Linked DNA regions of Homo sapiens: all the other regions are linked to region 1. The links come from fine-mapping of genetic effects on gene expression. A gene starts in region 1. Each other region holds a variant in brackets. All regions are shown on one strand. Distances are between the middles of the regions. Region 1 holds the start of RBP7 (retinol binding protein 7). Region 2 has its middle 9.4 kb from the start of CTNNBIP1. Region 3 holds the start of MIR5697 (microRNA 5697).

The links. PIP is the estimated chance that this variant, and not a neighbour inherited with it, causes the effect. A credible set is the group of variants that fine-mapping cannot tell apart.
Region 2: its variant is the best candidate, but not a certain one, in a credible set for the expression of RBP7 in breast (GTEx, PIP 0.68).
Region 3: its variant is the best candidate, but not a certain one, in a credible set for the expression of RBP7 in subcutaneous fat (TwinsUK, PIP 0.50).

What each region holds. Positions count from the first base shown.
Region 1 is chr1:9,991,668-10,001,565 of GRCh38, forward strand. It overlaps RBP7 (retinol binding protein 7), which reads left to right and starts at 5,561. Exons shown (of 4, transcript NM_052960.3): 1 at 5,561-5,664. The coding sequence starts at 5,592. LOC124903840 (basic salivary proline-rich protein 2-like) reads right to left here and starts at 6,422. Exons shown (of 2, transcript XM_047436754.1): 1 at 6,015-6,422; 2 at 5,052-5,185. The coding sequence starts at 6,363. The coding sequence ends at 5,052. It also overlaps a transcript of NMNAT1 not described here. RefSeq lists a silencer at 7,310-7,510.
Region 2 is chr1:9,914,703-9,924,600 of GRCh38, forward strand. It overlaps a transcript of LZIC not described here. Among named protein-coding and RNA genes, the nearest start is that of CTNNBIP1, 9.4 kb to the left of the region's middle. The variant G/A (reference allele first, on the strand shown) is at 4,236.
Region 3 is chr1:9,960,533-9,970,430 of GRCh38, forward strand. The region is part of intron 1 of NMNAT1 (nicotinamide nucleotide adenylyltransferase 1); the gene reads left to right. It overlaps MIR5697 (microRNA 5697), which reads left to right and starts at 6,849; the gene lies at 6,849-6,926. It also overlaps the pseudogene TMEM274P. The variant T/TA (reference allele first, on the strand shown) is at 7,138.

The DNA.
Region 1 (9,898 bases):
ATCAACATGGGCTCTGCCCTGGAAAGCTTCATGGAAAAGGCAGTCAATAAAAAAGAAAAAAGATAATTATGGATTATAATAATGATAAAGGACGTAAGCAGAGATGTGATGTGGAGTAAGTGTGTATTAGGAGCATATAGGAAGGCTGTTCTGAGAAGATGGCTCTCAAGTTCTTGAAGATATCCAAGTACTTTTCTGTCCACATTCTAAACCAACTGAAAAATAAGACGAAAAAAAAAAGCAACAAAAGGGCTGAGCACAGTGCCTCACGCCTGTAATCCCAGCTACTCTAGAGGCTGAGGCAGGAGAATTTCTTAAACCTGGGAGGCAGAGGTTGAGCCACCCCACTCCAGCCTGGGTGACAAAGCGAGACTCTGTCTCTAAATAAATAAGTAAGTAAATAAATACTTTAGGTTTAGATTTTTTTTTTTTTTTGAGACGGTCTCAGTCTGTCATTCAGGCTGGAGTGCAATGGTTCCATCACGGCTGACTGCAGCCTCGACCTCCCAGGTTCAAGCGATCGTCCCACCTCAGTCTCCCGAGTAGCTGGGACTACAGGTGCATACCACCACACCCAGCTAGTTTTTTTATTTTTTATAGAGACAGGACATTGCCATCTTGCCCAGGCTGATCTCAAAATCCTGGGCTCAAATGATCCTCCCTCCTCGGCCCCAAAATGCTGGGATTACAGGCATGTGCCACCACGCCCAGCCTAGGATTATAATTTTTTTATAGATTACCTCTACCTAGTTGACGAAAACGGTTCAGTGGCTGTTGCCCCGAGAGCAAGCATTCATCCCAGTTTACCAGGGGCTTTTCCAATGTTAGCAGCAAGAGTTCCATGTCCCAGGCACTCCTTCAGTCCTAGTTGTTCCAATCCTAAGAGGATGAGCAGAGGCCAGGGGCGTTTAGGGACAATTCCTCTCCATGGAGACCATGACTAGAAAAGACTGTACCCCTATGGCCGGGCGTGGTGGCTCACGCCTGTAATCCCAGCACTTTGGGAGGCCGAGGTGGGTGGATCACAAGGTCAGGAGATCGAGACCTTCCTGGCTAACACAGTGAAACCCCATCTCTACTAAAAAATACAAAAAATTAGCTGGGTGTGGTGGCGGGTGCCTGTAGTCCCAGCTACTCAGGAGGCTGAGGCAGGAGAATGGTGTGAACCCAGGAGGCGGAGCTTGCAGTGAGTGGAGATCGCACCAATGCACTCCAGCCTGGGCAACAAAGCGAGACTTGGTCTCAAAAAAGAAGAAAAAGAAAAGAAAAGACTGTACCCCTAATAGTGACTTTTGAGCTGGAAGCCAAAGGAGCTAACCAGGCAAAAACTAGGAGGAAAAACATCTCAGAAAGAGGAGACACCAAATACCAAGACTCTGAAGGAAAGGGTGTGATGTGATTAGAGGAACTGAGTTGGGGGAGACAGGATGTACTGCTGGTGGAGGAGTAGCCAGGAGCCAAACCAGGAAGGACTTTGTGAACCTAACCATGAGAGAGAGTGCAAATTTCCTTTTAAGAAAAACAGGACAGGCCAGGAGCGGTGGCTCGCACCTGTAATTCCAGCACTTCAGGAGGCCTAGGTGGGTGGATCACCTGAGGTCAGGAGTTCGAGATCAGCCTGACCGATACGGTGAAACCTCATCACTACTAAAAATATAAAAATTGGCCGGGTGTAGTGGCATGCGCTTGTAGTCCCAGCTACTCGGGAGGCTGAGACAGAATTGCTTGAATTCAGGAGGTGGAGGTTGCAGTGAGCCAAGACTGTGCCACTGCACTCCAGCCTGGGCAACAGAACAACACCCCATCTCAAAAAAAAAAAGAAAAGAAAAAAGAAAGACAGGACAATACTGAAGGGCTGTAAGCAAGGAGTGAGAAGATCTGAATTACATTCCTTAAAAGCTTGCCGGGGCTGCGTATGGAGAATTGTTTTGAGGGACTCAGAAGGGAAGCAGCAGGTCCAGATGAAAGATTTTTATAAGTGGTCCTGGCAAGAGATGATGGGGACTTGGGTTAAGATGGTAGAACCAAGAGGACTTGCTGAGGGACTGGATTTTGGCCAGCAGAGAAGATGGAAATTCACAAATCTACTGGATTCTTAGCTTGAGCATCCAGGGGCCTAATGGAATGTATGGAGATAAGGAGAGCTGGAAAAAATTTTGTTCTTACACTTTCTAGCTTAGCTGCGTCAAGTTTCAGATGCCTTTAAGATAGCCAAGTGGAGACGTCAAGTAGGAGGCGAGAGGTGGCACTGAACGTGCAGGCAGGTTACCTGGGTTTGAATCCAGACTCTGCCAACTATATGACCTCGGGCAAGTTAGTTAACCTCTCTATGCCTCAGTTTTTAGCTCTGTCAAAGGGAGTTAATAAAATAACTATTGGAGAAGTAGGATTTTGCAACAAATAATAATACACATAGCACTCAACAAATGTTAGCTTTTTTTTTTTTTTTTTTTTTTTTTTTTTGCAACAGAATCACTCCGTCTCCCAGGCTGGAGTGCAATGGTACAATCTCTGCTCACTGCAACCTCTGCCTCCCGGGTTCAAGTGATTCTCCTGCCTCAGCCTCTCCAGGAGCTGAGACTACAGACGTGTGCCACCACACCTGACTAACTTTTGTATTTTTTTAGTAGAGACGGGGTTTCACCATGTTAGCCAGGCTTGTCTCAAACTCCTGACCTCAGGCAATCCACCCATCTCAGCCTCCCAAAGTGCTGGGATTACGAACGTGAGCCACTGTCCCCAGCCAAATGTTAGCTTTTATTTTTTATTTTATTATTTTTGAGACAGAGTTTGGCTCGTGTTGCCCAGGCTGGAGTGCAATGGCACGGTCTTGGCTCACTGCAACCTCTGCCTCCTGGGTTCAAGCGATTCTCCTGCCTCAGCCTCCCACGTAGCTGGGATTACAGGTGCCCGCCACCATGCCTGGCTAATTTTTTGTATTTTTTGTATTTTTTTTTTTTTTTGAGACGGAGTCTTGCTCTGTCCCCCAGGCTGGAGTGCAATGGCGCGATCTCGGCTCACTGCAAGCTCCGCCTCCTGGGTTCACGCATTCTCCTGCCTCAGCCTCCCGAGTAGCTGGGACTACAGGTGCCCGCCACCACGCCCGGCTAATTTTTTTGTATTTTTAGTAGAGACAGGGTTTCACCATGTTAGCCAGGAAGGTCTTGATCTCCTGACCTCGTGATCTGCCCGCCTCAGCCTCCCAAAGTGCTGGGATTACAGGCTTGAGCCACTGCGCCTGTCCAATTTTTTGTATTTTTAGTAGAGATGGGGTTTCACCATGTTGACCAGGCTGGTCTCAAACTCCTGACCTCAGGTGATCCACCCACCTCGGTCTCCCAAAGTGCTGGGATTACAGGTGTGAGCTACCATGCACGGACTGCTAGCTTTTATTATATTTGAGTCTGGAACTCATGGGAGAGGTCATAAATTGACATATAAATCTTGAGCTGGACACAGTGGCTTACACCTGTAATCCCAGCACTTTGGGAGGCCAAGGTTGGAGGGTTGCTTGAGCCTAGGAGTTTGAGACCAACCGCCGGCAACACAGGGATACTCCATCTCTATAAAAAATTAAAAAAATTAGTCAGGCATGGTGGCACATGCCTGTAGTTGTAGCTACTTAGAAGGCTGAGGCAGGAAGATCACTTGAACTCAGGAGGTTGAGGCTACAGTGAACCATGATCATACCACTGCACTCCAGCCTAGGCAACAGAGCAAGACTCTATCTCAAAAAATAGTCAGTCTGGGTGTGGTGGCTCATGCCTGTAATTCCAGCACTTTGGGAAGCTTAGGTGGGTGGATCTTTTAAGGTTGGGAGTTCGAGACCTACCTGGCCAACATGGTGAAACTCCACCTCTTCTAAAATATATAAAAATTAGCCAGGCATGGTGGCAGGTACCTGTAATCCCAGCTACTCAGGAGGCTGAGGCAGGAGAGTTGCTTGAACCCAAGAGGCGGAGGTTGCAGTGAGCCAAGATTGCACCATTGCACTCCAGCCTAGGCGACAGAGTGAGAGTCTGTCTCAAAAAATAAAATAGAATAAAATAAAATAAAAAGAATAAATGAAAAAATAAATACCGCGGGTGCGGTGGCTCACACCTATAATCCCAGCACTTTGGGAGGCTGAGGCAGGCGAATCACGAGGTCAGGAGCTCAAGACCAGCCTAGCCAACATGATGAAACCCCCATCTCCACTAAAAATACAAAAAATTAGTTGGGCATGGTGATGGGCACCTGTGATCCCAGCTACTCGGGAGGCTGAGGCAGGAGAATCACTTGAACCTGGGAGGCGGAGGTTGCAGTGAGCCGAGATGGAACCACTGCCCTCCAGCCCGGGGCGATAGAGTGAGACTCCCTCTCTGCCGGGCGCAGTGGCTCAGGCCTGTAATCCCAGCACTTTGGGAGGCCAAGGCGGGCGGATCACAAGGTCATGAGATCGAGACCATCCTGGCTAACACGGTGAAACCCCGTCTCTAATAAAAATATAAAAAGTTAGCCGGGCGTGTTGGCGGGCGCCTGTAGTCCCAGCTACTCGGGAGGCTGAGGCAGGAGAATGGCGTGAACCCCGGAGGCGGAGCTTGCAGTGAGCCGAGATCTCTCCACTGCACTCCAGCCTGGGCACAGAGCGAGACTCCGTCTCAAAAAAAAAAAAAAAAAGAAAAAAGAAAGAGTGAGACTCTGTCTCAAAAGAAAAAAAATAAAAATAAAATCAATAAGTCAGTCTTGGAGCCAGCATATCTAGGCGGTGTTTGTGGCTAATGTTGTAGGTTAGCCCATATTCCCACCCCTTCTCCTTTGCTTTTCTCTGCTCTGAGGCTAAATGCTGCAGACTAGAATCCCCAGGCCCCCTTGCAGTTAGAAGTGGCATTGATACAGTTTTGGCTAATGAAATGTACACAGAAACCTGCTGGGTAATTTCTTTTCTTTTTTCCAACTATCCAGACTTATAGGAGATGGGGAGGTTTGTGCTGCAGGGATACTGACCTTTGGTGCTTTCCCTCTTCCCTACCTTGAATGTGGATGTCCTGGCTGGGAACCCAGCTGCCAGCTCATGACCAGGAGGTAACAAGCAGGAATAAAAGGCCACCAGAGTCACAGAGACGAAGCTGCGGCGTTACCGAGGTGCGAATCACTGTGATTCCTAGGTGCGAATCATCACCAGCAATCACTTCTCTCAGGACTCCTTGTTAAGAAAAATAAACTCCTATTTATTGAGACCATGAGAGTTACGTTGAGAGGTATATTGTTATTGAAGCTGACAATATTCAATGCCATGAGTTTGAAGATCATCCCTGGGTCATTAACATATAAGCAGGGAAGAAAATGTGGCCCGAAACAGTCTGGGACATGAGAAAGCAGTAGGAGAGGAAGCCCCAAGGAAAGGGGGAAGCTGCCGCGCGGTGGGCAGAGCCAGGAGCACCGGGCTGAGGCGGCCGGGAGCGCAGCGGCTTCTAGGGGTGAGTGGGACCCACGCGGCCCCACCTGCTCCTCCCGCGCGCGGCCCCACCCCCCTGCCCCGCCCCGCCTGGTTTATAGGTCCCGGCCCGAGCCTCCGGCCGCCCGCCGGGTTTGTCCCGCGATCCCCGACCATGCCCGCCGACCTCAGCGGTACTTGGACCCTGCTCAGCAGCGACAACTTCGAGGGCTACATGCTGGCCCTAGGTAAGGCGGAGGGGAGGCGGCGGCGGCGCGAGGCTCGCCGTGGGTCTCGGGATCAGGCGAAGGCGGCCGGGCCGGGCCTGTAGGTACGTCCTCTGTCCGTGCCTCCGCCCTGCTGCGCCCACCGTCGCCCAGTCGCCCCCGAGTCCGCTGGTCCTTGGCGCCTCCGTCCATCGGGCGCGGGACCCCAGTCCTTCAGTCCCCCAGTCCGTCCTTTCCCGCGCCCACCCGCCCCCCTGTCCCCACGGCCGTCTCTCCACGCCCTCTGTTCCCCCGGCCGTCGGTCCCCCACCCGTCCGTCCCTGAGTGCCCGCGTCCAGCCCCACGTCCGTCTCTACCCGCACGCGGCACACCTGCGGAGACTGCAGACTCGGGGTCCGGCCGGGGAGGGGGGTCCGGCCGGGGAGGGGGCGCCCGGGACCGAAGCCTCTGCCCGGCCACCCTCCCCGCAGCCGCCTTCCGTGCAGGCCCCGGGGCCCCGGGCGCGCTCCCGCAGCGAAGTCCCAGCAGCCTCGGCGCACCCGGAGCGGGTCGGGGATGCAGAATCCTGGAGCCAGCGGACGACCCTTCAGGTCCGGGCACCCGCGGGAGTGCAGAGCCTGGTTCGGCCCGGGGCGTGCCCCGACCGCCGCCTCCCACGAGGGCTGGGTGCCCGCGGCGTTCTTGCTCCCGGGGGCCCCGCGCTGTGCTTCCCGCCCTCATCGCGGTGCCAACGGTGCGCGGACTCTCAACTCACTGCAACCTCCGCCTCCTCGGTTCAAGCGATTCTCCTGCCACAGCCTTCCAAGTAGCTGGGATTACACGCGTGCGCCAGCCACCACGTCCGGCTAATTTTGTACTTTTAGTAGAGAAGGGGTTTCACTATATTGGTCAGGCTGGTGTCCAACTCCTGACCTCAGGTGATCCACCCGCCTTGGCCTCCCAAAGTGCTGGGATTACAGGTGTGAGCCACGCGCCCTGCCACGAGTGTAGTTTTTCTTGTAGCTTTAGGAATCTGGGAAGTTGCCGTGCCGGCCAATCCCTGAACCCTTGACCCGTGGGCAATTTTTGTTTTCTTTTTTTCTTTCTTTCTTTCTTTCTTTTTTTTTTTTTTTTTTGAGACGGAGTCTCGCTCTGTTGCCCAGGCTGGAGTGCAGTAGTACGATCTCGGCTCACTGCAAGCTCCGCCTACCGGGTTCACGCCATTTTCCTGCCTCAGCCTCTCCGAGTAGCTGGGACTATAGGCGCCCGCCACCACGCCCAGCTAATTTTTGTATTTTTTAGTAGAAACGGGGTTTCACCATGTTGGCCAGGCTGGTCTCGAACATCTGCCCTCGTGATCTGCCCACCTTGGCCTCCCAAAGTGCTGGGATTACAGGCGTGAGGCACCGCACCGGCCAATTTTTGTTTTCTTAACCTTAGGGCCCATCTTAGTTGATAAAGGGGCATTTATTTTGCTCTTTCATATCCCAAGAGATAAGAGTGTTCCTCTGGGTATGGGAAAAGCACCTCTCACTTGAGAGTCTTATGATCTTCTTCAGAGGAAGAGCAGAGAATTCTTTTATGGCCTGCTTCAGGGAAGAGGGGCAAAAGAAGGTCTGAGGGGGACCTTCCTGCTACTGTTATTTCCTCAAATGCCAAGTGATATGGTTTGGCTGTGTCCCCACCCAAATCTCATGGGAGTTGTAGTTCCCATAATTCTCATGTGTTGTGGGAGGGACCTGAGGAGAGGTAATTGAATCATGGGGTAGTTTTCCCCACACTGTTCTGGTGGTAGTGAATGTCTCATGAGATTTGATGGTTTTACAAGGGGTTTCCCCTTTCATTTGGCTCTCATTCTCTCTTGCCTGCCACCATGTAAGACGTGCCTTTTGCCTTCTGCCATGATTTTGAGGCTTCCCCAGCCACGTGGAACTGCGGCAGTTAAACCTCTTTTTCTTTATAAGTTACCCACTCTTGCCAGGCTCGGTGGCTCACGCCTGTAATCCCAGCACTTTGGGAGGCTGAGGCGGGTGGATCAACTGAGGTCAGGAGTTCAAGACCAGCCTGGCCAACATGGTGAAACCCCGTCTCAACTAAAAATACCAAAAAGAAATTAGCTGGGCATGGTGGCGGGCGCCTGTAATCCCAGCTACTTTGGGAGGCTGAGGCAGGAGAATCACTTGAACCTAGGAGGCAGAGGTTGCAGTGAGCTGAGATGGTGCCATTGCACTCCAGCCTGGGCAACAAGAGTGAAACTCTGTCTAAAATAATAATAATAATAAGTTACCCACTCTTGGATATGTCTTTATCAGCAGCGTGAAAATGGACATAAGGTGCCATGTTCTGAGGTCGCCTATCCAGAAACCCTTAAATCCAGAACGGTTTTCTGAAAACCAGCAACTGTGTTTCAACTTCAGATCTAATTTGTTAAAGTACTAAGTACTTACATCAATTTGTTAAAGTGCTAAGTACTTAGGTCACACTTATAGCACTAGAGTGGTTGTTTACATAATACTGTAATACTCTTTTTTTTTTTTTTTTTTTTTTAGATGGAGTCTGGCTCTATTGCCTAGGCTGGAGTGCAGTGGCGCGATCTCGGTGTGAGCCACTGTGCCCAGCCATAATACTATAATACATTTTATCTTAAGAATTAAGTTGGTCTGGGTGCAGTGGCTCACACCTGTAATCCCAGCACTTTGGGATGCTGAGGCAGGTGGATCATGAGGTCAGGAGTTCAAGACCAGCCTGGCCAACATGGTGAAGCCCCACCTCTACTAAAAATACAAAAAATTAGCTGGGCATGATGGCATGCACCTGTAATCCCGCTACTTGTGAGGCTGAAGCAGGAGAATTGCTTGAACCCAGAAGGTGGAGGTTGCAGTGAGCCGAGATTGCGCCATTGCACTCTAGCCAGGGAGACAAAGCAAGACTCCATCTTGAAAAAAAATAATTAAGCTAGCAGACTGGGCAGGTGGCTCACGCCTATAATCCCAGCACTTTGGGAGGCCGAGGTGGGTGGATCACCTGAAGTCAGGAGTTTGAGACCAGCCTGGCCAACATGGTGAAATACCCCATCTCTACTAAAAGTACAAAAATTAGCTAGGCATGGTGGCTCATGCCTGTAGTCCCAGCTAATTGGGAGGCTGAGGCACGAGAATCGCTTGAACCTGAGAGGTGGAGGTTGCAGTGAGCCCAGATCACGACACTGCACTCTAGCCTGGGCAACAGCATGAGACTTGGTCTCAAAAAAAATAAGTCAATAAGACAAAAAAAAAAATTCAGCTAGCAATCTTGAATTTTACTGATTTACTTGAATATATAATTAACTTTAAATTTATATGCTTGTTCATGTACATGTAAGGAAAATACATTCCATAAAAAATCACAGATATAGTACTTAGATCTTTAAACTGTAGGGTCTAGGAAAATAATAAATGATCGCCTCTTTTTTTGTTGTTGTTGTTGAGATGGAGTCTCTCTCTGTTGCCCAGGCTAGAGTGCAGTGGTGCGATCTCGGCTCACTGCAACCTCTGCCTCCTGAGTTCAAGCAATTCTCCTGCTTCAGCCTCCTGAGTAGCTGGTATTACAGGTGCCCACCACCTCTCCTGGCTAATTTTTGTATTTTTAATAGAGACGGAGTTTTACCATCTTGGCCAGGCTGGTCTTGAACTCCTGACCTCGTGATCCACCCGCCTTGGCCTCCCAAAGTGCTGGGATTACAGGCGTGAGCTACCGTGCCTGGCTGATTGCCTCTTTTTTAGTAGTAGAAGTGAGGTAAATGCCTGTTGGCAGTGATGCTAAGGGTCAAATAAGTCACCAGCAAATACACAGCACACATCTCATGATGTGCTCCAGCTGGCATCTCATTTGAGGGCAGAAAATCACTCCCTTTTGTCTAAAAACTAGTGTTCAGGAACTGATCCTGCAGCTCCCACCCGGGCTCTGGCATCACTCTCTCCCAGCATTTGCCAAACCGCAGTGAGAAGAAAGGCAGCTTGTCTTTGCACAAAGAAGCAAGTTTACTTGGGTTTTTTGAGATAGGGTCTTGCTCTGTCGCTCAGGCTGTAGTGCAGTGGTGCGATCATGGCTCACTGCAGCCTTCACTTCCTGGGCTCAGGCGATCCTCCCACCTCAGCCTTCCAAGTAGCTGGGACAACAGGTGCATACCACCACACTTGGCCAATTTTTCAATTTTTTTGTAGAGACGGTGTCTTGCTGTGTTGTCCAGGCTGGTCTCAAACTCCTGGCCACATGCAATCCTCCTGCCTCTGCCTTG
Region 2 (9,898 bases), 77 kb before region 1:
ATACATATTTTGTGTCATGAGTGGGGTATGTGCAGCTGTGAACATCTGGCTCTCTGCCAGCATGCCCCCCAAGTGTTAGTCTCTGTAGCATCTGATGAGTAGATCTTCCCGACATCACAGAACCCAGCTTTTATGTGTTTGGGAACAGTATAAAGAAATAATTATTCATTTCTTTGGCTGAGTGTTTTGATCAACCAACATGTCTTCTAAGTGTATTTTGTCTGTGAAGCCTGAAACATTCTAATCACCTAGTAAAGACAAAGCAACATAAGACCTTAATTTGGATCCATATACTCAGCTGATTAGCCTTTAACCATAGCAGTCTGTTTATCACCTTTTTTTCCTGCTGGTTATTGTCTAATTAAGGACCCAAAAAAATGACCATCCCTAAAAGCAAATAGCCTGTACCCTCTGGGAAAAATTAAATAACTGTCTTCCCCCACTCTCCCTGGCATATAAATGGCATTTCATAGCTGTAGATGTTGCAATGATATCAGTGTATTCAGATGAGACTGAAAAGACCACTCCTGACAAGCAATTCTTTCCTCATCTTATTGAATATAGATTGCCCGGTAGTTTGTTGTTGTAAACAAGCAGTAGAGTCTGTTATTATTAAACATCTATAACTTTGCTCCTGACCTTCACCATTGTAAGACAGTAGCAATTTTTTTTTTTTTTTTTTGAGAAGGAGTCTTGCTCTGTCGACCAGGCTGGAGTGCAGTGGCACAATATTGCCTCACTGTAACCTCAGCCTCCTGGGTTCAAGCAATTCTTCTGCTTCAGCCTTTTCAGTAGCTGGGACTACAGGCGTGTGCCACCACACCTGGCTCATTTTTTGTATTTTAGTAGAGACGGGGTTTCGCCATGTTGGCCAGGCTGGTCTCGAACTCCTGAGCTCAGGCAATCCACCCGCCTCAGCCTCCCAAAGTGCTGGGATTACAGGCGTGAGCCACAGCTCCTGGCCAACAGTAGCAATTTTTAAACTTATCCCAGGCCAGGCACTGTGGCTCACACCTGTAATCCCAACACTTTGGGAGGCTGAGGCGGGTGGATTGCCTGAGCTCAGGAGTTCGAGATCAGCCTGGCTAACATGGCGAAACCCCATCCCTACCAAAAATTCAGAAATTAGCCAGGTGTGGTGGCGTGCACCTGTAATCCCAGCTACTCGGGAGGCTGAGGCAGGAGAATCAATTGAACATGGGAAGCAGTGGTTGCAGTGAGCCGAGATCACGCCACTGCACTCCAGCCTGGGCAATAGACTGAGACTCCATCTCAAAAATAAAAATAAAAATAATAAAAAATATTTTTGAGACTCCATCTCAAAAAAAATAATAATAAAAAATAAATAAACTGGCCAGGCGCCGTGGCTCATGCCTGTAATCCCAGCACTTTGGGAGGCCAAGGCAGGTGGATCACGAGGTCAGGAGTTCGAGACCAGCCTGGCCGACATGGTGAAATGCCGTTTCTAAAAATACAAAAATTAGCTGGGCGTGGTGGTGCACGTCTGTAATCCCAGCTACTTGGGAGGCTGAGGCAGGAGAATCGCTTGAATCCAGGAGGCAGAGGTTGCGGTCAGTCGAGATTGCGCCATTGCACTCCAGCCTGGGCAACAAGAGCAAGACTCCCTCTCTAAATAAATAAATAAATAAATAAACTGACCCTAGACTATAAACTCTCCTGTTTATATATCTCGTTCATATGTTCATCTAGTTTTTTTTTTTTTTTTTCTGAAATCCTTTGCTATTTGTAACACTGAGGTCTAGCTTGCTGCAGTGTGACAGACACTTAGATTTTGCCTCCAGTCCAGCAGAGACTGCTAAATCTAAATGAACTTTGTGGCTCATTTCCACCCCACTTTCATTACTGTTCTTTTGGGAAATTACTTCCCATCAGCAGTATTTGCCCCAGCTGGTGAATCAGAGGGGGCTCTTTTTTATAGATAATAAACAGTAAAGACTGAGGGCAGCAGATCCATCCCCTGGTGTTAGCTAATGAAGAGCCTCACATGAAAGCTTATGCAGCGGGGACAGGCATAGCGTTAATATCCTGGGATCCAAGATTACACACTCTTCTCTCACATGCTGCTGAATAGATAGTAATGATTATTAATTATTTAAGCAAAGAACATGAGAGCCAACACAGGCAGCAAAAAGAAAGAGAGAGAGAGAGAGAGAGAGAGGGAGGGAGGGAGGAAGGGAGGGAAGAAAAGAAAGCTGCACTCTAGGATCTTCTATTGAAATCATTTTAATTAGTACAAGCTATGGAGCCAAGGGAAATAGACCAAGATACTTAATAGCGAAAGAATTTTTAAAAACTCTCTACCACTTTTCTTTCTGTAAAAAAAAAAAAAAAAAAAAAAAACAAGAGCTGAGGTTATATATTTGTATACACTGCTGTCAAAACGGAGTTTGAGAATGGAATTGCTTCCACAGGCTCCCTTCTGTGATAGCATATCAAAGAAAAAGGGTGAAACCTTCAGGAGGTTTTCATTCCAAATCTCAAATTTCCTGTCATTCCTGGTAGTTTTACTTTTTCTCTGTAGATTTCATGGTACCTGGTTTCTTCCTATTCAATAAGCTGTGACACACTATTTTATTTTTATTTTTTATTTTTATTTATTTTTTTGAGATGGAGTCTTGCTCTCTCACCCAGGCTGGAGTGCAATGGCACAATCTCAGCTCACTGCAACCTCTGCCTCCCAGGTCAAGTGATTCTCCTGCCTCAGCCTCCTGAGTAGCTGGGATTACAGGCGGCCGCCACCACACCTGGCTAATTTTTGTATTTTTCATAGAGACAGGGTTTCACCATATTGGCCAGGCTGGTCTTGAGCTCCTGACCTCAAGTGTCTGCCCGCCTCAGCCTCCCAAAGTGCTGGGATTTATAGGTGTGAGCCACCATGCCCGGCCAACACACTATTTTAAAAGTTACAACCCCAAAAAGGCATAAGGTTTTGTTTTGTTTTGTTGAGACAGGGTCTCGTTCTGTCCCCCAAGCTGGAGTGCAGTGGCATGATCAGGGCTCACTGCAGCCTCTACCTCCTGGCTTCAAGTGATCCTCCCACCTCAGCCTCCCAAAGTGCTGGGATTACAGGCATGAACCACCACACCTAGCCAAAAGGCATAGTTTTGATCTAACTTTCAAATTCTAGGACTATGGTCCCTTGTTTGGAACTCATTGGTCATTCTATCACAGTCCAACTTTTCCACATTGTCAACCTCCCTGCAGCTAATGACAGTTCCTCTTATTATCGTAGTTTTAATTTTGAATTCAGTAATATTTGGACATCTAACTCTCATTATTACTATCACTAACCTGGCTCTGTGACTAACAAAAGACTGTTTCCTTTGTGGGCATCTTTCTGACCTTGTTCCAATATTCACACTACCTTACACTAAACTCTTAATATTCCTTTCAGTTGCACTGATTCATACCTTCTCCTGACTCTTGATCAAGCATAGCCAGTCTCTTCAGTCAATCACTCATTCAAGGAATATTTATTGAGTTCTTTCCAGGTGCATGGCAGTGTACTAGGCAGGGGATAAAGCAGCAAATCAGACATATATTGTCCTTGCCCTCATAGTGAGTAAGAGACATCAATGAATTACATGATTGAATAATTCATTGCAACTGTAATTAAATGCTAAAAGCTGACATACAAGGGGCTGTGGGACCATATAACTGGGAATCTAACCTTGTATTAACAGGCAAGGAGAGCTTCCTTGGGAAAGTAATATTTAAGCTTACACTCCAAGTATAAGTTGGAGTTAACTAATCAAAGGGTGAGGAGAAGAGCAAAGCCAACAGTAGGACCAGCCCATAAAAAAAAGGTCATGAGGAGGCAAGAGAACATGATGAGATCAAACAACTGAGAGAAGGCTGGGGGCTGGAGTGCAGTGACGGAGAGAGAGGCCAGACCCAAATCATACAGGCCTTTATAGGTCATGCTAAGCATTTGGTTTTTATTCCAAGAGTAATGAGAATGATTGCAGGGTTTAAACAAGAATGTGACATCATCAGAATTGTATTTAAATAGCTGACTATGGCTATAGCATGGAAAATGGGCTAAAATGGAACAAGAGGAGTATATTAGTCAGCTATTGCTGCAATAATGCTGTATAACAAACCACCTCAAAATATAGTGGTTTTTTCGTGTTGTTTTTTTTTTGTTTTTTTGTTTTTTTTGCTCAGGAGTCCTCAAATTGCCTGGCTTCAGGCTGTGAGTTGCCTATGACTCT[G/A]CTGAGTCGGGATGGGATCAGCAAGGTTTAGCTGCAGACTAGGATTAAATCTGCCTCAAATTTCCTCCTCCTCCTTGGATTAGAGGCTAGCCAGGGTATATTCCTCTTATGATGAATGGTAGAAGAACAAGAGCAATGGCCAGGCACGGTGGCTCATGCCTGTAATCCCAGCACTTTGGGAGGCAGAGGCGGGCGGATCACGAGGTCAGGAGATTGAGACCATCCTGGCTAACACAATGAAACCCCGTCTCTACTAAAAATACAAAAAATTAGCTGGGCGCGGTGGCGGGCGCCTGTACTCCCAGCTACTCGGGAGGCTGAGGCAGGAGAATGGCGTGAACCCGGGAGGCGGAGTTTGCAGTGAGCCGAGATCGCGCCACTGCACTCCAGCCTGGGCGACACAGCGAGACTCCGTCTCAAAAACAAACAAACAAACAAACAAACAAACAGAACAAGAGCAGCAAGCCCAACTGTGGAAGCACATTGGAAGGTCATTGGCCATATCATCTAACAGCCTAGCCCCAAACAGTAGAGCAAGGAAGTATGTTCTACTCCAACAGAGAGAGGTATGAATAAAAGTTTTCTGATTCATACCCCAATATATCAAAGCAGCTATGAGTGAGGCATTTTCCTTTTTTTGTTTTGGAGACAGAGTTCCTCTGTTGCCCAGGCTAGAGTGGCACAATCCCGGCTCACTGCAGCCTCCGCCTCCCAAGTCCAAAGTGATTCTCCTGCCTCAGCCTCCTGAGTAGCTGCGATTACAGGCACCTACTACCATGTCTGGCTAATTCTTTTTTTTTTTTTTTTTTTTTTTTGAGATAGAGTCTCACCCTGTCTTCCATGTTGGAGTGCATGGCACAATCTTGGCTCACTGCAACCTCCGCCTCCCAGGTTCAAGTGATTCTCCTGCCTCAGCCTCCCGAGTAGCTGGGATTACAGGCACGTGCCACCATGCCCGGCTAATTTTTGTATACATATATATTTTTCTTTTTTTTTTTTTTGAGACAAAGTCTCGCTCTGTCGCCAGACTAGAGTGCAGTGGCGCGATCTTGGCTCATTGCAACCTCTGCCTCCGGGGTTCAAGCGCTTCTCCTGCCTCAGCCTCCTGAGTAGCTGGGACTACAGCCACACGCCACCATGCCCAGCTAATTTTTGTATTTTTAGTAGAGACGGGGGTTTCACCATGTTGGCCAGGCTGGTCTTGAACTCCTGACCTCAGGTGATCTGCTCACCTCGGCCTCCAAAAGTGCTGGGATTACAGGCGTAAGCCACCATGCCTGGCCTTTTTTTGTTTTGTTTTTTTGAGACAAGGTCTTGCTATGTTGCCCAGGCTGGTCTGGAACTCCTGGACTCAAGTGATCCTTCTGCCTCATCCTTTCAAGTAGCTGGGATTACAGGGCAAAACCACTGTGCTGGCCTTGGCATTTTCCATTCTGATGGAAACCAAGTAAATGGTAGAGTCTACTGCTTTATTCATCCTAAGCCACTTTGCTTTAGCCCCTAAAAAACCTGCTTTAATTTTCTCGAGGCCTTTAACATATATGGTATAAAATTGGTATATTATCAGCTTTGAGCATTTAAGGAACAGTTTAGTATCCATGAGCCCAATTTTCTCATTGAGTCTCTGGATGCAGTATGCATATGATTTCTCGGTGACCAGAAGCACTTGCTATAACAATAAATGTCACAAGGAGTTTCAGAAACAAATTGTTCCCTTTCTTGCAGTCACTTCTGTGTAAACACAAGATGAAGTTCTTTCTATCAGGGTTGGCTCTACCTGCCCCAAAATGCTCACTCTTCTCTTTTTTTTTTTTTGAAACCAGGTCTCACTCTGTCACCCAGGCTGGAGCACAGTGGCATGACCTCAGCGGACTGCAACCTCAGCCTCCCATGCTCAAGTGATCCTCCCACCTCAGCTTTGTGAGTAGCTGGGATTACAGGCACGCAACCTCCTATAGTCATAGGCGCGTGCCACCACACCCAGCTAATTTCTGTATTTTTTTTGTAGAGATGGGGACTTGCCATGTTGCCCAGGCTGGTCTCAAACTCCCGAGCTCAAGTGATCCAGCCCCCTAGACTTCCCAAAGTGTTGGGATTACAGGCATGAGCCACCGCGCCCAGCCAAGAATGCACTCTCTTCAGCCAATTACTCTGAGGCTACCGATTCTACAGTGGGTTCCAAATGAAAGAAGAGAAAGTCATAGCAGGTACTCAAGTTTATGATGGATGGGTCTGGCATAATGCTTTGTACTCTCATTAATGTTGGGTTTTTGTTTGTTTTTTAGATGGCGTCTCGCTCTGTTGCCCAGGCTGGAGTGCAATGGTGTGATCTTGGCTCACTGCAACCTCCGCCTCCCCAGTTCAACCAATTCTCCTGCCTCAGTTTCCTGAGTAGCTGGGACTACAGGCATGTGCCACCATGCCCAGATAATTTTTGTATTTTTAGTAGAGACGGGGTTTCTTTTTTGGGGTGGGGGGACAGAGTCTTGCTCTGTTGCCAGGCTGGAGTGCAGTGGTGCAATCTCGGCTCACTGCAACCTCCGCCTCCCAGGTTCAAGCGATTCTCCTGCCTCAGCCTCCCAAGTAGCTGGGACTACAGGTGCACACAACCACGCCCAGCTAATTTTTCTATTTTTAGTAGAGTTGGGGTTTCACCATGTTGGCCAGGATGGTCTCGATCTCCTGACCTCGTGATCCACTCGCCTCGGCCTCCCAAAGTGCTGGGATTACAGGCATGAGCCACTGCGCCCGGCTGAGACAGGGTTTCACCTCGTTAGCCAGGATGGTCTCGATCTGTTGACTTCGTGGTCTGCCCACCTCAGCCTCCCAAAGTGCTGGGATTACAGGTGTGACCCACCGTGCCCGGCCTTTTTTTTGTTTTTAATTTGAGACGGTGTCTCGATCTGTTGCCCAGACTGGAGTGCAATGGTGTGATCTCGGCTCACTGCAACCTCTGCATCCCAGGTTGAAGCGATTCTCCTGCCTCAGCTCCCCAAGTAGCTGGGAATACAGGCATGTGCCACTATGTCCAGCTAATTTTTGTATTTTTAGTAGAGACGGGGTTTCACCATGTTGGCCAGGCTGGTCTCAAACTCCTGACCTCAGGTGATCCACCTGCCCCAGACTCCGAAAGTGCTGGGATTACAGGCATTAAGCCACCACACCCGGCCTATACTCTCATTAATTTTTAGATGTAATTTATTATTTGAAGAGAAAAGAAAATCTCTGCATTTCCCAAAAGCGCTTACATCATATTCTTGTGCTGGGCTTTAACTTGGGTTCATCCTTTGCTTCCATTCTTGCAGTTACGCATGTATTCACAGGTCCTGGATCTTTAACAGGAAGCTAATCTTGCTGGGGACATCAATATTTTTGCTGGGGTGTGAGTCTAGCAGGTAGTTCATGTAACTTGGGGGCCGTCCTGGGGAGCGAAAGTGAACTATTTTTAGCTGACTTCAAGTGGAGGCAATTCACTTAAAGAATTCAAAGGCTTTGGCAATATCCTAGATTGACTTTAATGAGTAGCCTGAAATAGCTACAGGCTCCAGGGGGTAGACCGAACCTATTGAGGGCCTCTCCTAGGAGATAAAAAGGCGCTTACATAGCTTGCCTCATAAAGTAGTGTCAGCTTCTTCCCTGCCCCTAGCACAGTGCTCAGCATGGGAGCATTTCTGCTCATCTTATTAATTGGTGGCTAACTATAGACAGAACAGAAAGAGGCACTTATTTCACTAATATGCAGAAGCACGTTCTTAGGAAAGAGAGGAAGGCAGGCTCACAGAGGAGGATGCAGGCAGGCCTCAAACAAGCATCCAGGTGACACTTAGGACATTTTAAAACAGCTTTGAGTAGGCAATTCCCATTTAATTTCTTTTCAGAGTAGGAAACATATAGAAGCAGCATGCTAAAGGGGCTGCAGGGTCTGAAAAGGATAAAGGAACTAGTTTTAATTTGCCTTCCATTTCTGCTGCTAATGACACCCTACTGAGACAGACTATACTATAACACATACATTCCCACCAACTCAATCACATTCTTTCATTAGGATGTCTTGGGCTATTATAAGATCTTTTTAGCACAACTTTTAAGAGAAGGAAATATAACAGAAAAAGTAATTTACCTCACCTCCAGGAAAGGAAAAGACAGGAGTAACAGAATTGTAGGCTTTTTCCCACAGTAGGGACTCCCAGTTAATTTTATGATCTTCATTTCCCATTATTTCAAATAGCAAGACCATGAATACACAGGCTTCCCTTGGTCAACCCAAATACAATGCCTCCATTTTATTTATTTTATTGTTTTTGAGATGGAGTCTTGCCCTGTCACTGAGGTATGATCTTGGCTCACTGCAACCTCCGTCTCCCAGGATCAAGTGATTCTCCCTGCCTCAGCCTCCTGAGTAGCTGGGATTACAGGCACCTGCCACCACGCCCAGCTAATTTTTGTGGTTTCAGTAGAGACAGGGTTTCGCCATGTTGGCCAGGCTGATCTCGAACTCCTGACCTTAGGTGATCAGCCTGCGTCAGCCTCCCAAAGTGCTGGGATCACAGGCATGAGCCACCGCACCTGGCCCAATGCTTCTTTTTTTTTTTTTTTTTTTTTTTTTTTAAGAGATGGGGTCTCACTATAATGCCTAGGCTGGACTAGAACTCTAGGGCTCAAGCAGTCCTTCTGCCTCAGCCTCCCAAGTATAGTATAGAATTTTTGAAATGCATATTTTAAGATTTATGCTTTTCTGCTAGCATTGGGTCAAGAAAAAAAGAGAAAAAAATATTTTAAATATTTTGTGAAGTAGCATTATATTGCTTTTATTTATATTTATATATATTTTTTGAGACAGAGTCTTGCTCTGTCACCCAGGCTGGAGTGTAATGGCACAATCTTGGCTCACTGCGACCTCTGCCTCCCAGGTTCAAGCGATTCTCCCGCCTCAGCCTCCCGAGTAGCCGGGATTACAGGCATGAGCCACCACGCCCGGCTAATTTTTGTATTTTTGTAGAGATGGGGTTTCACCATGTTGGCCAGGCTGGTCTCAAACTGCTGACTTCAGGTGATCCACCCACCTCAGCCTCCCAAAGTGCTGGGATTACAGGTGCCTGCCACCATGCCCAGCTAATTTTTTGTATTTTTAGTAGACCCGGGGTTCCCCCATCTTGGCCAGGCTGGTCTCGAACTCCTGATCTCGTGATCCACCCGCCTCGGCCTCCCAAAGTGCTGGGATTACAGGCATGAGCCACTGTGCCCAGCCAATAGTTGTTTTTCATTGTTGGGTCAACTTAAAACACAACTTTCTCACTGTAAAACAAACCTCTACAGGGATGCCGCTATATATCTAAATGTATTAACAATAAAACACTTAATTGTCTTATTTGGGGAAAAAAAAGGCTCTATCCAATATCCATATTATTTTATTTTATTTATTTATTTATTTTTTTGAGACGGAGTCTTGCTCTGTCACCCAGGCTGGAGTGCAGTGGCGCGATCTCAGCTCACTGCAACCTCCGCCTCCCGGGTTCAAGCGATTCTCCTGCCTCAGCCTCCCAAATAGCTGGGACTACAGGCGCATGCCACCATGCCCAGCTAATTTTTTGTATTTTTACTAGAGATGGGGTTTCACCGTGTTAGCCAGGATAGTCTCCATCTCCTGACCTTGTGATCCGCCC
Region 3 (9,898 bases), 31 kb before region 1:
CCCAGGCCAAAACGCAGTGGCTCAATTTCAGCCTCCCGAGTGGCTGGGACTACAGCCACGTGCCACTGTACCCAGCCCAAGATTAGTAATTTTAAAATTAAAAGTAAATTTTAAGCCTCAAGACTGCCAGAGAAAGAAATGAACTCCTTATTGTCACAGTGAGCTGAGGAGGGACACTTACAGCCTGAGCTGGTGAGTTCTCAGCAGCCAGCAGTGCAAGCGATAGGCCGTGTGGGCCAAACAAAAGTGAATCATGGTGACACTGGGCCCAGAGCACCTGGAGCAAGACAAGGAGGACCCAGGTCAGTCCCGTTAGAGTTTCCAAACTGCTGCACCCATTCATCAATCGGCCACAGCCCCCCTATACGCATGCGCATGTGCCCTGCAATGATATGGAGGAAGTACTCTTCAGGAAAGGGACAGACCCTAGTTCTTTAAAACCCACTTTTGGCAGCAATAGGAGCTCACTGTAACCTTAACTCTTGTGTGGCTCTGAAGGTTTAGAGTCTGGTGTGAGCTCGAGTTGGCTTTGTTAACAGTTAGTGGAACTGTGAGCTGGATATTTGAGACAAGTTATAGATGTAACAAGGGAGAAAGACAGCTTCCTTTATGCTGAGAGATCAGCTTCCTCCAGCCCTTCCACATCCCTTGGGCATCACCTGGAAACCTAAGCTTATCCCCAAGTGTAGGGCTAAAAGCTGTTTGTTCCATCCTTCCCTGAAGTCTGCTTCAGAACTGCAGCAGCTCCCTTGAGGACCCACACCTCTCGAACTCAGCCTTACCCTTCTTCCATCTCTCTCTTGGGAATAGTAACTGAAACCTGAGATGGGCGGGGTTGTCTGACGCCAGCTGTCTGTCTGGTGCCAGCTGAACCCAGCCCCTCCACCAGTCTTTGAGAGCATGCTCAGTGGCTGGTGGATACCCTGATTTCTCTGTAGGCCTCAGGGTACTATGGGCATGTCGCATTCATCACCCCCTCCCATAATACCACTGGTAGTTTTTATGGGTATCGAGGGCCTGGGGTAGGGATAAAGGGTATGGGTACAAGCCCCAAGTGAATCATGGTATGATACTTTTGATGGTAACTGAAAGGTAAGACATTTAAATCATTCTTAGTGATGAACTCATTTTTTTCTAATGCCCTAGTGACTACTACTGAACCTTCTCCGTTATTCCCTAAGAACAGTTAGCAGTGTCCCTGTGATCCCACCACTGTGCCTTCTTTCGAGAAGGCCCCAAGTATATATATATTTTTTGAGACGGAGTTTTGCTCTTGTTGCCCAGGTTGGAGTGCAATGGCATGATCTCGGCTCGCCGCAACCTCCACCTCCCAGGTTCAAGTAGTTCTGCCTCAGCCTCCCAAGTAGCTGGGATTATGGGCATGTGCCACCATACCTGGCTAATTTTGTATTTTTAGTAGAGACGGGGTTTCTCCATGTTGGTCAGGCTAGTCTCGAACTCCCAACCACAGGTGATCCACCTGCCTCGCCCTCCCAAAATGCTGGGATTACAGGCATGACCTACCGCGCCCGGACCCCAAGTATCTTTCTTACTTCCATTTCCACTGACTATTTGTGGCTGCTTTTCCTATCTTGTTTCATCCCGTCCAATGAATTCCAAATCATCACTGTCATCAGTAACATCACTTTCCTCAAAAATAACAGCTGCCGCCGGGCGCGGTGGCTCACGCCTATAATCCCAGCACTTTTGGAGGCTGAGGCAGGCGGATCACGAGGTCAGGAGATTGAGACCATCCTGGCTAACATGGTGAAACCCCGTCTCTACTAAAAATACAAAAAATTAGCCCGGCGTAGTGGTGGGCGCCTGCAGTCCCAGCTACTTGGGAGGCTGAGGCAGGAGAATGGCGTGAACCCGGGAGGCGGAGCTTGCAGTGAGCCGAGATCGCGCCACTGCACTCCAGCCTGGGCGACAGAGCGAGACTCCGTCTGAAAAAAAAAAAAAAATAACAGCTACCATTCATTTTAACACTGTGCCAGGCAATATGCTAAGCCCCTTGCCATGTTTATCCTCAGAATTAATCCTCAAAGTAACTGAGATTGGCCTTCTCATTATCTCCATTTTACAGATAAAGAACCTAAAAACAGAGTTAAGAGATCAAATCAAGATCACACAACCAAATAAGGGTTTTTTTTTTTTTTTTTTTTTTGAGACGGAGTCTTGCTCTGTAGCCCAGGCTGGAGTGCAGTGGCGCGATCTCGGCTCACTGCAAGCTCCGCCTCCCGGGTTCACGCCATTCTCCCGCCTCAGCCTCCCGAGTAGCTGGGACTACAGGTGCCTGCCAACACACCCGGCTAATTTTTTGTATTTTTAGTAGAGACAGGGTTTCACCGTTTTAGCCAGGATGGTCTCGATCTCCTGACCTCGTGATCCGCCCGTCTCGGCCTCCCAAAGTGCTGGGATTACAGGTGTGAGCCACCGTGCCTGGCCCCAAATAAGGGTTTTTAACACCCATGTCATATTATTTTGAGAACCCTGTTGTCACTCCTTTGCTCAGAAACCTTCAAAGGTTCCCATTGTCCAAGGGGTTAAAGTTTATATTTCTCAACTCCTTAGCTATGAGAGGGCTCAATTCCAATCTACACTGTTCCAGTTTATCTCCCATTTTTCTTCTTGGTGAGAGAGCTTAAGAGTCAGGAAACCTAAATTCTAGTCCTGATGTGCCATTCACTAGCTTTGTCCACTGACAGCATAAAATCTGAACAAAAGCAAGTTGGTCAGCCTAGCAGTTATGTCTGACTACTATTGGGCTACAAATGAACAGTCTTGACACAGGTGTTTTCAGTATTGCCAAGTCTTAGATGTACACAGTGAGGCATTGCATAGCCTTAATTTCCAGATTTATTTTTAACCCACTATTTCTTTTTTTTTTTTTCCAAGATGGCGTCTTGCTGTGTCCCCCAGTCTGGAGTGCAGTGGCACAATCTAGGCTCACTGCAACCTCCATCTCCCGGGTTCAAACAATTATCCTGCCTCAGCCTCCCGAGTACCTGGGATTACAGGCGCACACCACCACGCCCAGCGAATTTTTGTATTTTTTAGTAGAGACGGTTTCACCATGTTGGCCAGGCTGGTCTCGAACTTCTGACCTCGTGATCCGCCCACCTCAGCCTCCCAAAGTGCTGGGATTACAGGCGTGAGCCACCGCATCTGGCCCCCATTATTTCTTTTTTGAGATGTTTGTAATAGTGAAAAATTAGAAAAACCTAAATATCCAAAGGTCGAAGATTAACTGGAAAAACTGAATTAACTATAGATTATCATTTGGAACATGCTAATTGCTTTTGGCCAAGTTATTTTTTTGCAGTGAGAATCAAATGACAATGTGTATGAATTTTATTTTATTTTATTTTATTTTTGAGACAGAGTCTCACCCTATCACTCAGGCTGGAGTGCTGAGGCGTGATCTCAGCTCACTGCAACCTCTGCCTCCTGGGTTCAAGTAATTCTTGTGCCTCAGCCTCCCAAGTAGCTGGGATTACAGGCACCAGCCACCACACCTGGCTAATTTTTATACTTTTGGTAGGGATGGGATTTCACCATGTTGGCCAGGCTGGTCTCAAACTCCTGGCCTCAAGTGACCCACCTACCTCGGCCTCCCAAAGTGCAGGGATTACAGGTGTGAGCTACCACACCGGGCCGAAAGTATTTTTATAAAGCCAGGTGTGGTGGTTCACACCTGTAATCCCAGCACTTTGAGAAGTGTAGGTGGGAGGATCACTTGAGCCCTTGGTCTTGAAATCCTGGGCTCAAGCAATCCTCCCACCTCCACTTCCCAAAGTGGGAAGCAGAGCCTGGGCAACAAAATGAGACTCCTTCTCTACAAAAAAATAGAAAGATAAGCTGGGTGTGGTGATGTGTGCCTGCAGTCCCAGCTACACGAGTAGCTGAGGCAGGAGGATCCTTGAGCCCAGGAGATCGTGGCTGCAGTGAGCCATGTTCAAGCTAAACCTCCCAGCTTTCCCAGCCTGGGTGACAGAACAAGACCCCGTCTCAAAAAGAAAAAATAAAAGTATTCTATACTTTTGTTTTTGTAAACCAAAAGTAGCATATAACTATTGATGTGTTTATTGTCATTTGCTATATTTCTATGTTAATTATAAAAATGCTTCAAGCGGCCAGGCACGGTGGCTCATGCCTCTAATTCCAGCATTTTGGGAAGCCGAGGCAGGCGGATCATGAGGTCAGGAGATCAAGACCATCCTGGGCTAACACGGTGAAACCCCATCTCTACTAAAAATACAAAAAATTGGCCAGCATGGTGACGCACACCTGTAGTCCCAGCTACTCGGGAGGCTGAGGCAGGAGAATCACTTGAGCCAGGGAGGTAGAGGTTGCAGTGAGCCAAGATTGTGCCACTGCACTCCAACCTGGGCGACAAAAAAAAAAAAAAAAAAAAGCTTCAAGCTCTACAAAAAATTCCCCAAAGTTTTGAAAATACTTTGAGCAAGATTATGTCACTGGAATTATATTTATAAGATCTCAGGGCCAGGTGTGTTGGCTCATGCCTGTAATTCCAGCACTTTGGGAGGCCGAGGCGGGTGGATCACCAGGTCAAGAGATCAAGACCATCCTGGCGAACATGGTGAAACCCTGTCTCTACTAAAAATACAAAAATTAGCTGGGTGTGGTGGCGTGGGCCTGTAGTCCCAGATGCTCAGGAGGCTGAGGCAGGAGAATCGCTTGAACCCAGGAGGCGGAGGTTGCAGTGAGCTGAGATTGTGCCACTGCACTCCAGCTTGGCAACAGAGCGAGACTCCATCTCAAAAAAAAAAAAAAAAAAAGATCTCAGAATGATTATTTTTAAGACATTCTTTGGATATATAAGAATATTTATTACTTTTTAATTTTTATATTATTGTTGTTATTTTGAGACAGAGTCTCGCTCTGTCACCCAGGCTGGAGTGCAGTGGTGCAGTCTCGGCTCACTGCAACCCCTGCCTGCCAGGTTCAAGTGATTCTCCTGCCTCAGCCTCCCAAGTACCTGGGATTACATGTGTGCGCCACCACACTCGCTAATTTTTGTATTTTTGGTAGAGATGGGGTTTCACCATGTTGGTCAAGCTGGTCTTGAACTCCTGACCTCAAGCGATCTCTCTGCTTTGACCTCCCAAAGTGCTGGGATTACAGGTGTGAGCAACCGCACCTGGCCAAGAATATTTATTTTGAAGTCCAAGCACAGTAGCTCATGCCTGTAATCCCTTTGAGAGGCTGAGGCAGGAGGCCAGGAATCTGAGACCCACCTTGACAACATAGTGAGACCCTGTCTCTGCAAAAGATTTAAAAAATATAGCCAGGTGTGGTGGCATGTGCTTGTGGTCCCAGCTACTTGGAGGCTGAGGCAGGAAGATCATTTGAGCCTAGGAGGCAGAGGCTGCAGTGACCTGTGATCATGCCATTGGACTCCAGCCTGGGCAACACACCGAGATCCTTTCTCAAAAAAAAAAATTTTATTCAGAAGTATTTGGCTGGGCACGGTGGCTCACGCCTGTAATCTCAACACTTCGGGAGGCTGAAGCAGTCAGATCACTTGAGGTTAGGAGTTTGAGACCAGCCTGGCCAACATGGTGAAACCCCGTCTCTACCAAAAATACGAAAATTAGCCAGGCATGGTGGGGCATGCCTGTAGTCCCAGCTACTTGGGAGGCTGAGGCAGGAGAATCACTGTAACCTGGGAGGCAGAGGCTGCAGTGAGCTGAGATCGTGCCACTGCACTCCACCGTGGGCAACAGAGGGAGACTCCATCTCAAAACAGAAAGAAATTATTTATAAATATTATTGACCGGGCGCGGTGGCTCACGCCTGTAATCCCAACGCTGTGGGAGGCTGAGGCAGGCAGATCACCTGAGGTCAGGAGTTCAAGACCAGCCTAGCCAACATGGTGAAACCCCATCTCTACTAAAAATACAAAAATTAGCTGGGCATGGTGGCAGGCACCTGTATTCTTAGCTACTCAGGAGGCTGAGGCAGGAGAATCGCTTGAACCCAGGAGATGGAAATTGCAGTGAGCCAAGATTTTGCCACTGCACTCCAGCCTGAGCAGCAGAGTGAGACTTAGTCTCAAAAAAAAAAGTATGTATATATAATTATATACAAATATTTATTTGAAAACCTTTACAATAGCAAAGTTATTTTTTTAACTTGTTGAAAACTAGTAGGCAGCATTTAAAAGGTTCTGTACAATGAATGAAAAAGATACTGTCATCACTGGGCATTCCAGAGTACTAGGGATAAGATAATATACTACACATCTTCTAGAAAGTAAAAGCAGGTTACACATAAAGGAACAAGGATTAGAATGACCTCAGACTTTCAACAGCAATGTTGAATGCCAGCAAACAATGAAGAAGTGCCTTTATAATCTTAAAAGAATAATTTCAAAAATTATTTGGGCTGGGCACAGTGGCTCGAGCCTGTAATCCCAACACTTTAAAAGGCCGTGGCGGGCAGATCACCTGAGGTCAGGAGTTCAAGACCAACCTGGCCAAAGTGGTGAAACCCTGTGTCTACTAAAAATACAAAAATTAGCTGGGCATGTTGGCAGGCATCTATAATCCCAGCTACTCAGGAGGGTGAGGCAGGAGAATTGCTTAAACCTGGGAGGCAGAGGTTGCAGTGAGCCAAGATCTTTCCACTGCACTCCAGCCTGGGTGACAGAGTGAAACTAAGTCCCCCCGGCTCCCCGCAAAAAAAAAATTATTTGAAATTATTGAGTTGAAAAGAATTTTCTCAAGCCATTAATAATTGAAGGAAGAATAACAACATCGTCGAACTTACTTGATCTCCCATGCGCCTATCAAACTTACTTGATCTCCCACGAATCCTACTGGAGCATATTCTCAAGTAGTTTCATGATAAAGGGTGTATGAGAGATCAACCCTTTATCATGAAACGCTTGAGGATACGCTCCAGAAAGATTAGAAAGCAAAGCGAGAAATAAATAGGGGATCTAACCCAGGAAAGAGATGAAGAAGTTTTCAGAATAATAGCTTCACAAATAGAGATTTTTCATCTGGATAAGAGGAGGAGAGTTCCAGAAAGAAAATCCTCTGGGAAAAAAACAGATTGAATAGAATAGCAATTGTAAATTAAACCATTTGAAATTGATGTTTTGTTGAT[T/TA]AAAAAAAAAATTGCTTGCTGAGCACAGTGGCTCATACCTGTAAGCCCAGCACTTTGGAATTGGCCAAAGTGGACAGGTTCGCTTCGAGATTCTGAGCCCAGGAGTTTGAGACCAGCCTGGGCAATATGGCAAAACCCCATCTCTACAAAAAATACAAAAAAACAATTAGCCAGTGCATGCCTGTAGTCCCAGCTGCTTGGGAGGCTGAGGTCGAAGGATCACTTGAGCCTGGGAGATGGAGGTTGCAGTGAGCTGAGATTGTACCACTGTACTCCAGCCTGGACAACAGAGTGAGATACTGTCTCAAAAATCAAAAAACAAAAGACAATTCTAGTAACATAATTTGCAACATTCATAATAGCTATATTCATAGCATGTTTGCTATTTGCCAAATGTAGTTTTTTTTTTTGTTTTTTTTTGAGATGGAGTCTCGCTCTGTTGCCCAGGCTGGAGTGCAGTGGCACGATCTTGGCTTGCTGCAAGCTCCGCCTCCTGGGTTCACGCCGTTCTCCTGCCTCAGCCTCCCGAGTAGCTGGGACTACAGGTGCCCGCCACCACGCCTGGCTAATTTTTTTGTGTTTTTAGTAGAGATGGGGTTTCACCATGTTAGCCAGGGTGGTCTCGATCTCCTGACCTCGTGATCTGCCCATCTTGGCCTCCCAAAGTGCTGGGATTACAGGCGTGAGCCGCCGCGCCTGGCCTGCCAAATGTAGTTCTATGTCTTGGATCTGTATTGTTTCATTTAATCCTCACAACAATCAGGAGGTAGGTAGTATTATTTTCTCCTTTTTAAGATTGATTAAAAACTGGGACAAGGTGGGCACTGTGGCTCATGCCTGTAATGCCAATACTCTGGGAGGCCGAGGCAGGTGGATCACTTAAGGTCAGGAGATCAAGACCATCCTGGCTAACATGGTGAAACCCCGTCTGTACTAAAAATACAAAAAATAATTAGCCAGGAGTGGTGGCGGGCACCTATAGTCCCAGCTACTCGGGAGGCTGAGGCAGGAGAATGGCATGAACCCAGTAGGCGGAGCTTGCAGTGAGTCGAGATCATGCCACTGCACTCCAGCCTGGGCGACAGGGCGAGACTCTGTCTCAAAAAAAAAAAAAAAAAAATTAGCCAGGTGTGGTGGCACGTGCCTGTAATCCCAGCTACTTGGGAGGCTGAAGCAGGGAGGATTGCTTGAACCTGGAAGGCAGAGGTTGCAGTGAGCTGAGATCGTACCACTGCACCCCAGCCTGGGTGACAGAGCGAGACTCTGTCTCAAAAAAAAAAAAAAAAAGCCAAAGAAAAAACCTGGCACAAAAGGAAGGTTAAGTTAGGGTTAGGTTGCCCAAGGTCATGCCGTTGGAGCTGCAATTTGAAGCCAGGCAGCCTAATATCAGAGCATAGGCTCTTAACTCTTCTGTTATATAGGCGGGAAATTGTAGGATACTTTCTTGTAGAGTCTGACTAATCCAAGCAAAAAGACCTGCGGTACTGACAGGTTACTGAACAGTTATGGCCCCTGTGCACAAGCCCTACCTACCCACTCAGCCTGTCCCATCAGCTCTTTTTGAAGAAACTTTAAAATATATCATGAATATTGGTAGAGAAATAGAGATGATAATCTGTTGGGGAAATGAGTAGAATACCATAAACAGGAGTATTCAGAGGATAGGGCTCTTGGAAATTAAGAGTGTAATGGCAGAAGTGAAAACTAGGCAGATTGGAGGATGAAGTTGAGGCTATCAGGAAATTAGAGCATGAAGGCAGGAGGTGGAAAATACAGAAAAAATGATTAGATGCTTCAGCTCTAAATAATAGACATTTTCAGGCCAGGCACAGTGGTTCATGGGCGGCTGAGGTGGGTGGATCACTTGAGGCCAGGAGTTCGAGACCAGCCTAGCTAACATGGTGAAACCCATCTCTACTAAAAATTCAAAAGTTATCTGGGTGTGGTGGTGCATGCCTGTAGTCCCAGCTACTTGGGAGGCTGAGGCAGGAGAATTGCTTGAACCTGGGAGGTGGAGGTTGCAGTGAGCTGAGATCGTGCCACTGCACTCCAGCCTGGGTGAGAGAGGGAGACTCTGTCTCAAAAAAATAAATAAATAATAGACATTTCAAAAGAACAGATAAAATGGGAGGCAGAAAATCATCAATGAAAGAACTCAAGGACATTTTCTAGAACTGAATGTTACAAGTTTCCAGACTGAAAGGACCTGCTTGCCCTGTGCTCAGCATGATGGATAGAAACAAAGCTGCACTAGAGGACAGCACTGTGAAATTTCAGAACACTGCGGACAAAGAGAAGACCTTACATGCTTCAAGACAGGAAAAAAATGACATTCAAAAGCTCCGGAATTAGAAGTGGCTTTGGATTTCATGCTATTAACATTGGAATCTAGAAGTAATGCCTTTGAAGTTGTGAGAGAAGATGATTTTCAACATAGTCTGGAGATAAACTATATTGGGCAGTTTGGGAGAAGGTAGTCAAAGGGTATGAGGGCTAATCTTTATAGATCATAAAGTCAATGGGCACTGTTATAGTTGGATAAATTAAGAAATGGCATTATAAGCACATAATGTAGAGTTATGGTAGAAACTACCAGAAGAAATAGCTGAAAAAGTTAAAAGTGGTTGGATGGAAGGGATGATGAGTGGAATATGATTGATGGCTGTTGGTTTTCATTAAGGGCCTTTTTTACCCTGTGATGTTCTAGATCTATATATATGAATTAGTTGAATAAGAAATTTTAGGCCAGGCGCAGTGGCTC